Homo sapiens: one gene and its partners. The protein of the gene in region 3 purifies or fractionates together with the protein of the main gene of each other region. This does not show direct contact. Each region holds a gene or a part of one and is shown on either strand. Other genes may lie near its edges.

Region 1 (3,500 bases), on a different chromosome or scaffold from region 3:
TTTTCCTTTAATCTGTTATTGACTTTCAATAAACTAGACATAATTTAAAGTACACAATTGGATAAGCTTGACACATGCATGCAACCAAGGACTCCAATCACTGCAGTCCAGATCGTGGCTATAACCATCAGCCCCAAACTTTCCCCATGCCCCTTAGTTATCCGTTGCCCTCTGCCATCCCCAGGCAACTACTGATGCGCTATCAGTATGGATTCATGTGTGTTTTTGGGAATTTTATATGAAAGGAATCATATGGCATTGTTTTTTCCTGGCTTTGTCCATGTTCCACTCAATAGTTTATCCAGGCTGTTTTCTGAGCAATCCTCTGTCCTGGGCCTCTCCGTGGTTTTCATAGACAGGAATCCCTCTCTCCTTAGCTTTGGCCTTTCCATCTGGAGCAGTTGCCCCTGGACCCAGCTAAGCCCACACCCATCATCTGTTCCGTGGGGAGGAGTGGGGTGACTCCCAGGTTTCTGGCTGGGGCTGCTGGGGGGGTGTGACATGTTCACTGGAGGAGGGGGTGCAGGGAGAAGAGGGCAAGTAGTCCTGCAAGCCCACCCCCTGCCCATCTTTCACAGCTTACCTCCTGACCCAGAGGCTGCCACAGCTGCAGGGGCCCTAAGGAACCAGTTGATAGGCTTGGGGCTCCTGGTTCTCCATAGAGCTGGCCTCATTCCCCTGGAGCAGTACCCTGGGGCTGTCAGCTAGAGGCAACATACTATACTCTGGGCCACTCACCCATGCACGCTGCGGACAAACTTCTCCAGCTGCCTCATGCAGGACCTGGCTTCAAAGTGTTTCACACGCGGCTCCCCATATGCTCCAATGTCGATGTAGAGCTCTGCCTCATTTCCTTTGGGGTGCACTAGGCCTGGCTGGCTGGGCAGGATGAACGGACACAGCCAGATGGGGTAGACCTGGGTAGACCAGGGAGGTGGGTATTGGTGCTTTTTCTCCAACAGGTGACAGGCTCATGGCTGGCCCGCTCATACCCACCCAAATGAAGGCTTTGCAGCATTCTCAAGACCCCCTCAGGTGCTCTCAGCTTCACTGCCCCGCCCCCCAGCCCTGGCTGAGAACACCCTGACTCCACCACCTTGGAGGACACAATCGGAGCAGGTCATGGGAGTGCTCGATGCCAGACCCTATGACTCCTCTCCCAGGGGGGCCATCACTGAGTGGGTTGAGGCCTCAGCAGACATAGGGACAAGGACCTCATCTTAAAGTTGGGAAAACACCCAGAGGGCAGTGTGCCCAAGGTCGGTCACACGGTTCAGGGGAGGAGACCATGGATTCCAAGGGAATGCACCTGGTGCGCCCTCCCTGCCCTGCCCCACTCACGTGGATGTCGTTTTGGAAGGTGTGCAGGGCCTGCTGCAGGCACTTCATGGGCACCAGCATGTCCTGCACCACGTGGTGCTGCTCGTACAGCTTGCGCAGGGTCTCACCCTGGGTCAGCTTCAGGAGGGAGATCTTGGGAGGCACCATCCAGCCAAAGAGGTAGCGGAAGATGGGGTTGTTGCCAAAGGGGATAATGTCCTGGAAAACAAAGATTAGGGTTGGAGAGAAAAAAACCAACAAGGGTTGAATGTCTCCAAGTGCAAGGGGCCAGGGGCCAGGTCCCATTCTGTGCTTGACAGAAGCACGCCTGAGTCCAATTCCCCTCTTTGGAGGGGGTGTGATGGGACCTAGGACTTTACCAGTCCAATCTAGGTTTGCTTCTCAGCTCTGGCATTCGCCAGTAGTGATGACCCCGGGCTAGTTACTTAACTTCTTTGAGCTCAGTTTCCTTATCTGTAAAATGGGCCTTGTGAGGATAATGAGATATTAATACCAAGTGGAAGGCACTCAACCCCATGCCTGGAGTGCAATAATGAGCTAGCTATCATTCCTGATCTAGCTGTTGAGATCTGGCTGGAATAGAGCTGGCATTCCATAAATGTTTGAGAAACGAATGCTGTTGAATGAGCATAGTGATTCTTAGAGAATTTAAGCAGTCTCCCTAGGGGCACACAGCCAGAGACAGCGCTCATGGGGTGGGTGCAGTCTGGCTCAGGTTCGACAAGGAGCCCACTGGTTTGCAGCATCCCTTGCTCACAGCCTGACCACCCGCCTGGCTCCCCCAATTCGGTCTCCCTGGAAACCCTCCTGCGCAGAAGCTGTTCTCTTCCACGCCTCAGACTGCCACGAGGCGGGAGCTTCCTCACTCAGCACTGCTGCCTCCTGACGATGGCCCCCTCTTCCCTCCAGCTCTGCCCACCTCCAACAGAGAAGACTTTGGCCCCTGGGTCACAATCCTCCTCCCTGCTTGAGTCCTACCATGTTCCTGAGGGTCCCCAGTGTCCACTGATGCCCGATTCTCACAGCTCTGGGAGCCCTTGAAGCCAAGGCTGCTCCTCCATTCATTAAACAGTTCTGGCCAGGCACGGTGGCTCATGCCTGTAATCCCAGCACTTTGGGAGGCCGAGGCAGATGGATCATGAGGTCAGGAGATCGAGACTATCCTGGCTAACACGGTGAAACCCCGTTTCTACTAAAAATACAAAAAATTAGCCGGGCATGGTGGCGGGCGCCTGTAGTCCCAGCTACTCAGGAGGCTGAGGCAGGAGAATGGCGTGAACCCAGGAGGCGGAGCTTGCAGTGAGCCGAGATTGTGCCACTGCACTCCAGTGTGGGCGACAGAGTGAGACTCCGTCTCCAAAAAAAAAAAAAAAACAGTTCCAAGGGGCCTCCGAGGTCAGGAACCAGGTTCTATGCTGGGTGCTGGGGAACCAAGATAACTGAGACATGGTCTCTGTCCTTAAGACACCCACAACCGCAGGTGTGGAAGACACAGGCCACTGGATGAGTGTGGGAAGAGTGGGGACAAACAGAGGCTGGGGCAGCTCATGAAAGGGTCCACATCAGACTAGGGGGCACGGTGACTCCCCAAAGCAGCCATGTGTGTAAGCACTGAAGGCTGAGTGACCCTTTCCCTCACTCCTCTGGAGCTGCCGGACCACTCCCATGAAGTCAGGGACCTGCCTGTTTTCTTCTGTTAGATCCTGCGCCTTTGCCAATGTCTGGCATGCAACAGGATCTCAATAAATAGCCTGGCTTTTATTGTTTCCTTGGTTACCTTTGGAAGACCTACACATGCCCACAGCAGAAATCCCCATAGTACAAAAGTTAAGCCTCCCTGCGCATTCCTGACCCTGTTTCCCTCCCAGCAATGACCTGACCTGGCTCCCCACCCACCCTCAACTCTCCTCCCCCTCCCTAATGGCAAGCATTGGTAAGAATGATTTGCCTACCCTTTGGGGGACATCTGATACGGAGAAGCAGAGGAGCTTTGAAAAAACAGAAAGCAAAAAAACCTCATAAATGGTGGCATCTTAGCACCACTGGCTCATCACTGTATCCTGTATCAATACAGAGGGCACTACTGCCTTCGGTTGTGGGTGTCTAATGTGTGCTGCAGGGGTCCACAAATTCGGCCCACCCTCTGGTTGTGTGTTCCT
Region 2 (3,042 bases), on a different chromosome or scaffold from region 3:
TTTCAAAAACCGAAGAAAATAAGGTTTTTCTTAAAAAGTTAGACATTTTCTCTTGTTAATTCTGTATCCTGTTATTTACAGCTGAAGAGAAACTATTTTAACTTAAGTGTAAAATGGTTTAGAATAGCAAATGATACAGTCCACTCAGAGTTTACAAAAAAAACATTTACCAGGTAGACACTTAATAAATAAAACAAGCACTTGGAAAAAGTTCTTTGAAAACAGACCTAGGGACATCCACCTGCATCTTTTGCACAGATTTTGTTAAGAAAAGGCCAGATCTAAAAATGTACTGTCAAGAAACAAGCAAACCAATGCATACATACGTAGGTATTCTAAACAGAGGTTCATGTGGTGTCCATTTAGAGTGACTGATGTAAATGCCAGTTGTAGAAGTGTTAATCTAAATCTTTTACTCGGCGACAGATTTCCTCTGTGAAGTCTGAGCATTTTGCATTGCCTCCCAAATCTTTTGTCAAGCTCTGAGAAAAGGAAAAAGCAAAAATAAAAGATGTATCCGCAAACTAAACTAAACCAAGGAGATTTTAAAGCCCTCAGTGAGATGCCACCTGGGCAAGTTACTCGGCTGCTCTTTCATTTAGTTCCTCATTTCAAAGTGAGGAACCACTCCACCACCATCTACCCAGCCCAGGAGGATCGGGATCCAATCTCATAGTGTATACAACAGCACTCTGCAAAGAATAAGGTGCTCTTGATGCAAAGGGAGGCAGGGAGCTTTACCAAAATTTTCCCTTTGTTCACACAATAGACCCTAACCCAGATTAGTTGGTCATGGATATTTAAATAAAAGCGAATCTAAATAAGAAGTTTCATAAAAATCCTTGGGAAATATGTCTCAGGAATAGACCTGAGACATATTTTGATCTATTTTTGTTTTTATTATTATTTTTTTTTTAGATGGAGTCTCACTCTGTTGCCCAGGCTGGAGTGCAGTGGCACGATCCCAGCTCACCACAACCTCTGCCTCCTGGGTTCAAGCGATTCTCCTGCCTCAGCGTCCTGAATAGCTGGAATTACAAGTGCATGCCACCATACCCAACTAATTTTTGTATCTGATCTATTTTTGGAGGCTGGGACACAAATACGAAAGAAATATTTAAATCATTAACTCTTTTTTTTTTTTTTAAGAGACGGGGTCTCACTATGTGGCCCAGGCTGGTCTTGAACTCAGAGGCTAAGGTGATCCTCCTGCCTCAGCCTATAGCTGCAACTACAGGCATGCACCACCACACCTGCCTAAATCATTAACTCTTAAACCTCCCTCTTTAGGAAAGAAAGCCTCCCATACAACTGATCTGTTCTACCAGCTTATCCTTTCTTTCCTGCATACAGACCCCAATATATTTAATTCTCTTTATCTTTCCATCCTACACAATAAAAGGGCCCACTATGTAATTCAGGCACCTCTCTACTGGGCTGTAGATTATAACTTCCCAAATATAACTTTAAAGAATAAGAAAATCATATGACCTCCAATGTGACTATCAGGCTGTTAAAAACAAGCCTGAATTTCTTGTATTTTGGCCACACGATATAATTTCAAATTACAGAATTTTTTTAAAAGAAGGGACCAACTTTGAAGATATTACGCTAAGTGAAATAAGCCAGACTCAAAGGACAAATACTGTATGATTCCACTTACATGAGGTACCTAGAGTAGTCAAATTCATAGAGACAGGAAGCAGAATGGCAGGTGTCAGAGGATGGGAGGGGGAAGGGAAAGTTACTGTTTAACGGGTGCAGAGTCTCAGTTTGAGAAAATGAAACTGGTCTGGAGATGACTGATGGTGATGGTTACATTACAATGTGAATGTACTTAACATTATTGAACTGTATACCTAAATACGGCTAAAATGGCAAATTTTATGTTATGCATATTTTTCACAATTTTTGTTAAAAAGGACCTCAAATTAGGGATGAGTCTTCAAGTGCATTATTTCCTCTAACTTCGGAATAGCCCGCGACACTTCTTCCACAGGCCACAATTGCTTACCGAGGCGGTGGAGCTTGTTGGGTAAGGCCCAGACTGCGTGTTAATACCAACTTGGGTCATTTAGGAGCTGTAAAACCTTGGACATATTATTTATTCTCTCTGTACCTCAGTTTCCTCATCTATAAAATGGAATTATAGCATCTACTTCAAAGAGTTATAGAAAAACTTTGCTGAGATGATATATAAAGAACTTAAAAGTTGCATAAGTATTCAATTAATATTAGTTATTACTTTTATAAAACTTCTGTATTGCTTTTGTATTATAGATGCACACAGTGTAACATATAAGACTATTGTATTAGAGGTACATCTGCATCTGTATCTGCCACTAGATTCCCAGCTCCTTGAGGCTCAGCATCTTACCCTATTCATCATTTTACTCTTCACACCTTATAAGGTACACTCAACAGACGTTTGTTGTGAAGAGTAAAAAGTTGTCTATAAAAATCAATGAACTTGGCCGGGTGTGGTGGCTCATGCCTGTAATCCCAGCACTTTGGGAGGCTGGGGCGGGAGGATCACTTGAGCTCAGGAGTTCGAGACCAACCTGGCCAGCATGGTGAAACCCCATCTCTACTAAAAATACAAAAATTAGCTGGGTGTGGTGGCACACGCCTGTAATCCCAGCTACTAGGGAGGCTGAGGCAGGAGAACTGCTTGAACCCGGGAGGTGCAGGTTGCAGTGAGCCAAGATTATGACACTGCACCCCAGCCTGGGTGACAGAGCAAGACTCTGTCTCAAAAAAAATCAATGAACTTGGCCAAGGTCACACAGCTAACAATAGGATAATTGGGCGTGCACCTGATGCTGCCTCCCAAACCACTGACCTTTCCACTGTACACTGATGTCTATACATCAGTGCTGCTTAACTTTTTTTGGATGAAATATCTAGATCCTCACCTCAGAAAATGCACACATGTGCACACATACCCTGTTCAATCTGGGACCCACGTTAAGAATCCTTGTTCAACATCAAATGCTTGGGCCCGCCTGAGAACTATTATCTGTCACTGTCCCTTTCACTCAG
Region 3 (5,216 bases):
TGCCTGGCCCCCTCTGTAATTGTTGGGGAGCACCTCAGCCCATCCACCCCTCAAAACAGGGAGCTTCTGGGGGCAGAGTTGGGATGCGGTTCCAGTCTGCACCCACGTGAGAGGCACAAAGCCAGGCTCCTCGTGGGTTCTCAATGATGGCAAGGAATGAACAGACAAGGTCTCCCACGGACAGCCCCGAGGAATGGTGGTCTCTGCATGGTGGTCTCTGCAGGAAGCTTCATGGGCCGAGTGCATCCCCTGCTATGGGGCTGGGAAGGAGCTGGGCCATCCATTCCCTCCTTACCCAGGAAAGTGATTTCTAACCTGGGTGTGGGATGGCCCCAGCTGCCCTCAATGGTTTTGAGGCCTGGTGCTGTGAAAAATCCAAGCAAAATGGATTTCTATCCTGTGACAAGTCTTAGGGACAAAGCAGCGCTGGGGAGGACTGGCCCCTGAGAGAAAGGGATGAGAACGGGAGCCTGGGGAGGGTGGAAGGGAGGAGGCTACCTGCAGGAGTCACGGCCCCCTCCTGGATGCCTCCTACGTAGCCGGGTAGAAACTTATGGCAGAAGTCAGGGAGAGACGTGTACAGAAGCACCTGAAACACACAAGCAGCCTGATCACCCCCCGCCTGGAGGGCACCTGCAAAGGGGGACGCATAGCAGGAACATGAGAATCACAATCATAGTCTTTTTCTTCCTGAAGCACTTATGGCTCCTGGAAGCTCAAACTGCTGGGCTGTGGGTTTTGAAGGGGGTTCTGAGACAATAAACTCATCAACCAGGGAAGGTGCCAAGGCGTTCTCCCCCAGGGCTCCATTCGCCCCTCAGGAGAGCGCACAGGTCCCTCCCAGTCACCTTTTTAAAATGGAGAATCCCATAAAATTCAACTTTTTATATATATATATAAATCTATCTTTGAGATGAGGTCTTGTTCTACCACCCAGGCTGGAGTGTAGTGGTGCAATCATAGCTCACCGCAGCGTTGTCCTCCTGAGCTCAAGTGATCCTTCCACCTCAGCCTCCCAAGTAGCTGGGATTACAGGTGTGCACCACCACACCCGGCTAAAATTCACCCTTTTAAAGTGCACAATTCAGCGGCATTTAGCGCATTTACATGGTTGGTTGTACACCTATCACTGCTAATTCCAGAACTTTTCATCACCACAGAAGAAAATGTTGTTCCAATCTCCGGTCACTCTGAATTCCCTGTCCCTGCCGCCCCTGGCTGCCACTGAGCTTTCTGCCTCTGTGGATTTGCCTGTACTGGGTATTGCATATAAAGGGAACCACACAGTATGCAGCCTCTGTGACTGGCTTCTCTCGCTCAGCAGTGTCTTCAAGGGTCATCCGCCTACTGGCATCAGAGCTTCATTCCCTTCCGCTGCCAAATAGTGTCCCACAGTGGGCACAGTGTTCTGTTCTGTGGGTCCATTCATCTACTGATGGACAGGTGGGGGTTCCTGCTTTGTGGCTATTTGTGATTCACACTGCCCCTGTCATTTTTCACTCAAAGGGACCAAGAGATCTGAACTGAGAAGTATTCTGGAGCCCAGAAGCTTGGACCCTGGGGAGAAACAGCTAATCATGATCTGAGCCTTCCTCCCGCCCAGGAAGGAAAACCCAGGCCTGTCTCTTTCTAGCACCGTTTCCCTGGAAACCTTTTCCTGGGTTCAGGCAATCAGCACCACCCATGTGTGCACCAGGTTTACAACAACCCCTTCCTGGAACTCCCTCTGGACTGGGAGGCCAGTGGGGACACCATGGAGCTGAGGACGTCCTGGACCTGCCTCGACTGCCTGTGGGGAAACATGGCCCTCGCTTCTCTGAGTGGCATCTCATGACTGAGAGAGTCCCTTTGGGGACTGAGATGCTCCTTTCCAGACCTGGTGCAAGGCGTGACTCCTGCTGACAATGGGGCTTCCTCAGGACAGCACTGCCCTCCCACGGGGTTTTGCTCCTATCCTCAGCTTGTCCCTGCAGAGCTGGGCGTGCCCAGCAACTGCATGCAGGCATGCCGTGAAGGTGTATCAAACGCTGATGTGACAGGTGCCTCCTGCCTTACAGCTGAGGATGAATCTGAACATGTCAGAGTCCAGGGAATGCCCTGCTGGGTCCCGGGAACCCAGATGTCAACCTGAGCCAGGATCCATGTCCCAGACAAATGGAAGGACTACCCCAGCAGGAGGGCACGCTCCCCACCTGCTGTGTCCCAACCCCAGGGCAGGGGCTGCTGACCTGGAAGGTGACCCACAAGGTATAGAGCTGGGCGGCTTTCCTCGTTATAGGTGGAGTCTTGGCCCAGATGTCCGAGAGCCGAGCATGTCCGGTGACGATGTCCACCACAGGGCCAGTCAGGGCGCAGCTGTACTGGTCACAAGCCATGATGAAGTAGTAGACGATGAAGGGGGCGAACAGCAGTAGGAAGATGACGCTCGCCAGTGAAAACCAGTCCACCTCCCTGCGAGGACGGATGCAGGCAGTCACACTGGGGCCCATCTGCCCTGGGCCCCACCAGGACCCTAAGAGGCTCTGTGTGGGAGAACTGTTGCTCAAACCCACCAGTACCCCATGACAGAAGGCATTAGCTCCTAGCACGGGCCCTCCTTGCGGCCAGGGAAGCCACTCAACATGCCTGCTCTACTGTAGTTGATTAACTGGTGGCACTATCTGTGGCCCCCATGGAAGGCCCAGAGCTCAGAATATGAGCGGAGGTAGGTCTTTCACAACCACCAAGGCCAGTGGTTTCCCCAGTTCCAGGTCGGAGAGGATACTCACCCTGCACGAAGTCCCCATGGTTCTATGGCGAAATGGGAGCTGTGACAATAGGTCATACCCCCAGATGGTGGGAAGGCCCCAGCTGCCCTTTAAGCCTTTATCTTTTTTTCTAAGTTGTTGACTGACCATGATTTCTAGTTTCTTTTTATAATTCCTTACTTTATAAAGTGGAAAACTGTTTACCTTTCATTAGTCTTGACAAAAAAAAAAAAATCTTTTTTAAAAAGGTCCTTCATTCCTTTGGGTCCATACAATTCCAAAGGCTGGAAAGCTCTGAGACCACACTTTACTTTCTAGCTGGGAGAACAGGCAAGATCCTTACCAGGCACGGCCCCACTGCCCTTGAGATGCGGTTCTGTCATTGGTGACGCCATCTAGACTCTTGGCTTTGGGAATGTTGGGTTGCGATTTTGCAGCCATTGGGCCCTGCAAGAAAGAGAACCTTGCTTACATTATCCCTCAAATAACAGACACCACCTTTCCCTGTTGCATCCACCACTGCTCCTGGGCCTGGCAGGGCTGGCCTCCTGTGCACATCTTCCCGGTACCTTGTTCCTGACAGCAGATTCCAGGCAGGGAAGAGATCATCTTGTCTTAGACTCTCTTCCTTGGACCCTGCAATCACCTCCCACGTGACCTTGCTATGGCTGCTCTTGCTAGTCTCAGTTCATTCTCCAAACATGGCAGAATGCCCCCCCTCTTACAGCACAAGCTGGCTCCTGCCTCCCTCCTACACACCACTCTCCCCTATTCTCCTTTGGCTCCAGGAACACAGGGGTCTTCACTCATCCTTGAACACAGTTTAAATTGTCTGTGGCACTGACTTCCTCTGCTTAGAGCACGTTTGCAGGTGTCCTTGTTCAGGGCTCATGTAAAATGTCCCCTCCTGGGGAGATCTTCCCTCTCAGCCAATCTGAAGCAGCTGCTCCCCAGCTTCCCTGCCAAGGCCCTCCACTGGGTACTTTATTTTCTTAGTAACTCTCCCCATCGCCTAGAAGTATTCATTTGTGTGTGTGTATTGTCTGTCTCCCCTCACTAGAATGTAAGCTTCCCAAGGGCAGGAATTGTGTGTCCTCTTCATTGTTCTACTACCAGGGCCTAGAACAGTGGCCCATGTAGGACCATCAATAATCACCCTTCAAAAAAAAGGGGAAGAGAACACAGAATGTCTCTAGGTACCCACAGCTGCTCTACATGGTTATAATTTGGGGGAAGCAGTGACATCCCCACTTCCAGAACAAGTTCATAACTGTGAAGCTTTAAAATATCTGAGATTTTTTAAAAGATGCTCTTGAAAGCTTTTAGAGAAAAAACAGGAGTAAAAATCACAGTAGGCTTAGATTTCTCAACAGCAAGCTGGATTCTAGAAGACAATGATGAAAAACTTCAAAATTTTGAGGAAAACTTTTTGCAACCTAGAATTCTACTCCTATGTGAACTATTACTCAAGGACAACAACATAGGATCCAGGAAACTGGAGACCCAAGAGAGCTGCTGAAGCCATGTCCACAAAAGGGCAGGGGCAAGTCCCAAGAGGACAGCTATGCAGCAGGACTAACCAGAAACCAGTCCACATTGGTACAAGATGAATGGCTAGGAAAGAGAGGAAATGAAAATGATGAATTTTGTTGCATCTGAATGTGTAGGAAAATTATTGATATATGTGACAGCTCGGTTAGAGCATCCAGAAAAAAATGAATGAGAGATGCATAGAAACCTTACCAAATGAAAAAAAAAAAAAAAAAAAAAGGAAGGCAACTGTTAACTCCAGGAAAAATAAAAAGTCATATAAGGAAGGAAAAAAAGAAACCAAGCCATTATTATAGGACCTTACTTGGCTCAACAGTGAATAATGGTAATTTTGTCATAACAATGTATACTCTGACTATTTATTGACTATTGTATGCACAGAAGGGAATTTGCAAAGTTAGGGGTACTAAAAGGAAATTACTTAGAAACAAGTAGGTACAAACAACAACACAAAAGTAGCTGAAAGAATGAAAAGTGTTTGCTGCTGGCAAGCAAGACTGTCGGATGTGGGATGTGGTAGAGAGTATTTCTTCTGAAGCCTTTTAACACTGATTTTTAAAAAAATGTGTGCATGAATTACTTTAATAAAAATTCACACACATTTAAAAAATTTCAACGATGAAAGACATTTTCCTTATGCAGTGTGAGAACTTCAGTACCCGCACTTCATTCAATTTACACAAGTTAGTTTATGCAGTTCCTATGATGCACAAAACAAGACGAAGAGTTCTTGATAGGAAGAGACCGTGTCTCTCTCCGGCCCCAAATACTGAATACAGAGCCTGGCGAGTGCCAGTCACTCTCCTTATATCTGTAAAATCAAAGTGGATGAAAGAAAACTACTTCTGAGAAAAGCTGACACGCTAGTGAGTCTGATCTCAAGATCACAGCCACCTGGACAAGCTGGCTTGCTTTAGA

Evidence for each region.
Region 1: the proteins of DHCR7 (region 3) and DHCR24 purify together in Homo sapiens (co-immunoprecipitation; one study listed by IntAct). This does not show direct contact.
Region 2: the proteins of DHCR7 (region 3) and IDH3A purify together in Homo sapiens (affinity purification with mass spectrometry, with the first as the bait; one large-scale study listed by BioGRID). This does not show direct contact.

Annotation. Positions count from the first base shown.
Region 1 is NC_000001.11:54,852,696-54,856,195, forward strand, and holds part of DHCR24 (delta(24)-sterol reductase precursor), read right to left. Parts: intron 1,540-3,500; coding exon 1,342-1,539; intron 918-1,341; coding exon 739-917; intron 1-738. UniProt on the Homo sapiens protein: Catalyzes the reduction of the delta-24 double bond of sterol intermediates during cholesterol biosynthesis.
Region 2 is NC_000015.10:78,166,362-78,169,403, reverse strand, and holds part of IDH3A (isocitrate dehydrogenase [NAD] subunit alpha, mitochondrial precursor), read right to left. Parts: intron 1,937-3,042; exon of another isoform or gene 1,029-1,936; coding exon of another isoform or gene 919-1,028; exon of another isoform or gene 483-918; coding exon 399-482; 3' UTR 1-398. Other genes in the region: long-chain-fatty-acid--CoA ligase ACSBG1, read left to right, coding at 919-1,028. UniProt on the Homo sapiens protein: Catalytic subunit of the enzyme which catalyzes the decarboxylation of isocitrate (ICT) into alpha-ketoglutarate.
Region 3 is NC_000011.10:71,441,765-71,446,980, forward strand, and holds part of DHCR7 (7-dehydrocholesterol reductase), read right to left. Parts: intron 3,195-5,216; 5' UTR 3,189-3,194; coding exon 3,091-3,188; intron 2,523-3,090; exon of another isoform or gene 2,452-2,522; coding exon 2,229-2,451; coding exon of another isoform or gene 2,193-2,228; intron 590-2,192; coding exon 499-589; intron 1-498. UniProt on the Homo sapiens protein: Oxidoreductase that catalyzes the last step of the cholesterol synthesis pathway, which transforms cholesta-5,7-dien-3beta-ol (7-dehydrocholesterol,7-DHC) into cholesterol by reducing the C7-C8 double bond of its sterol core.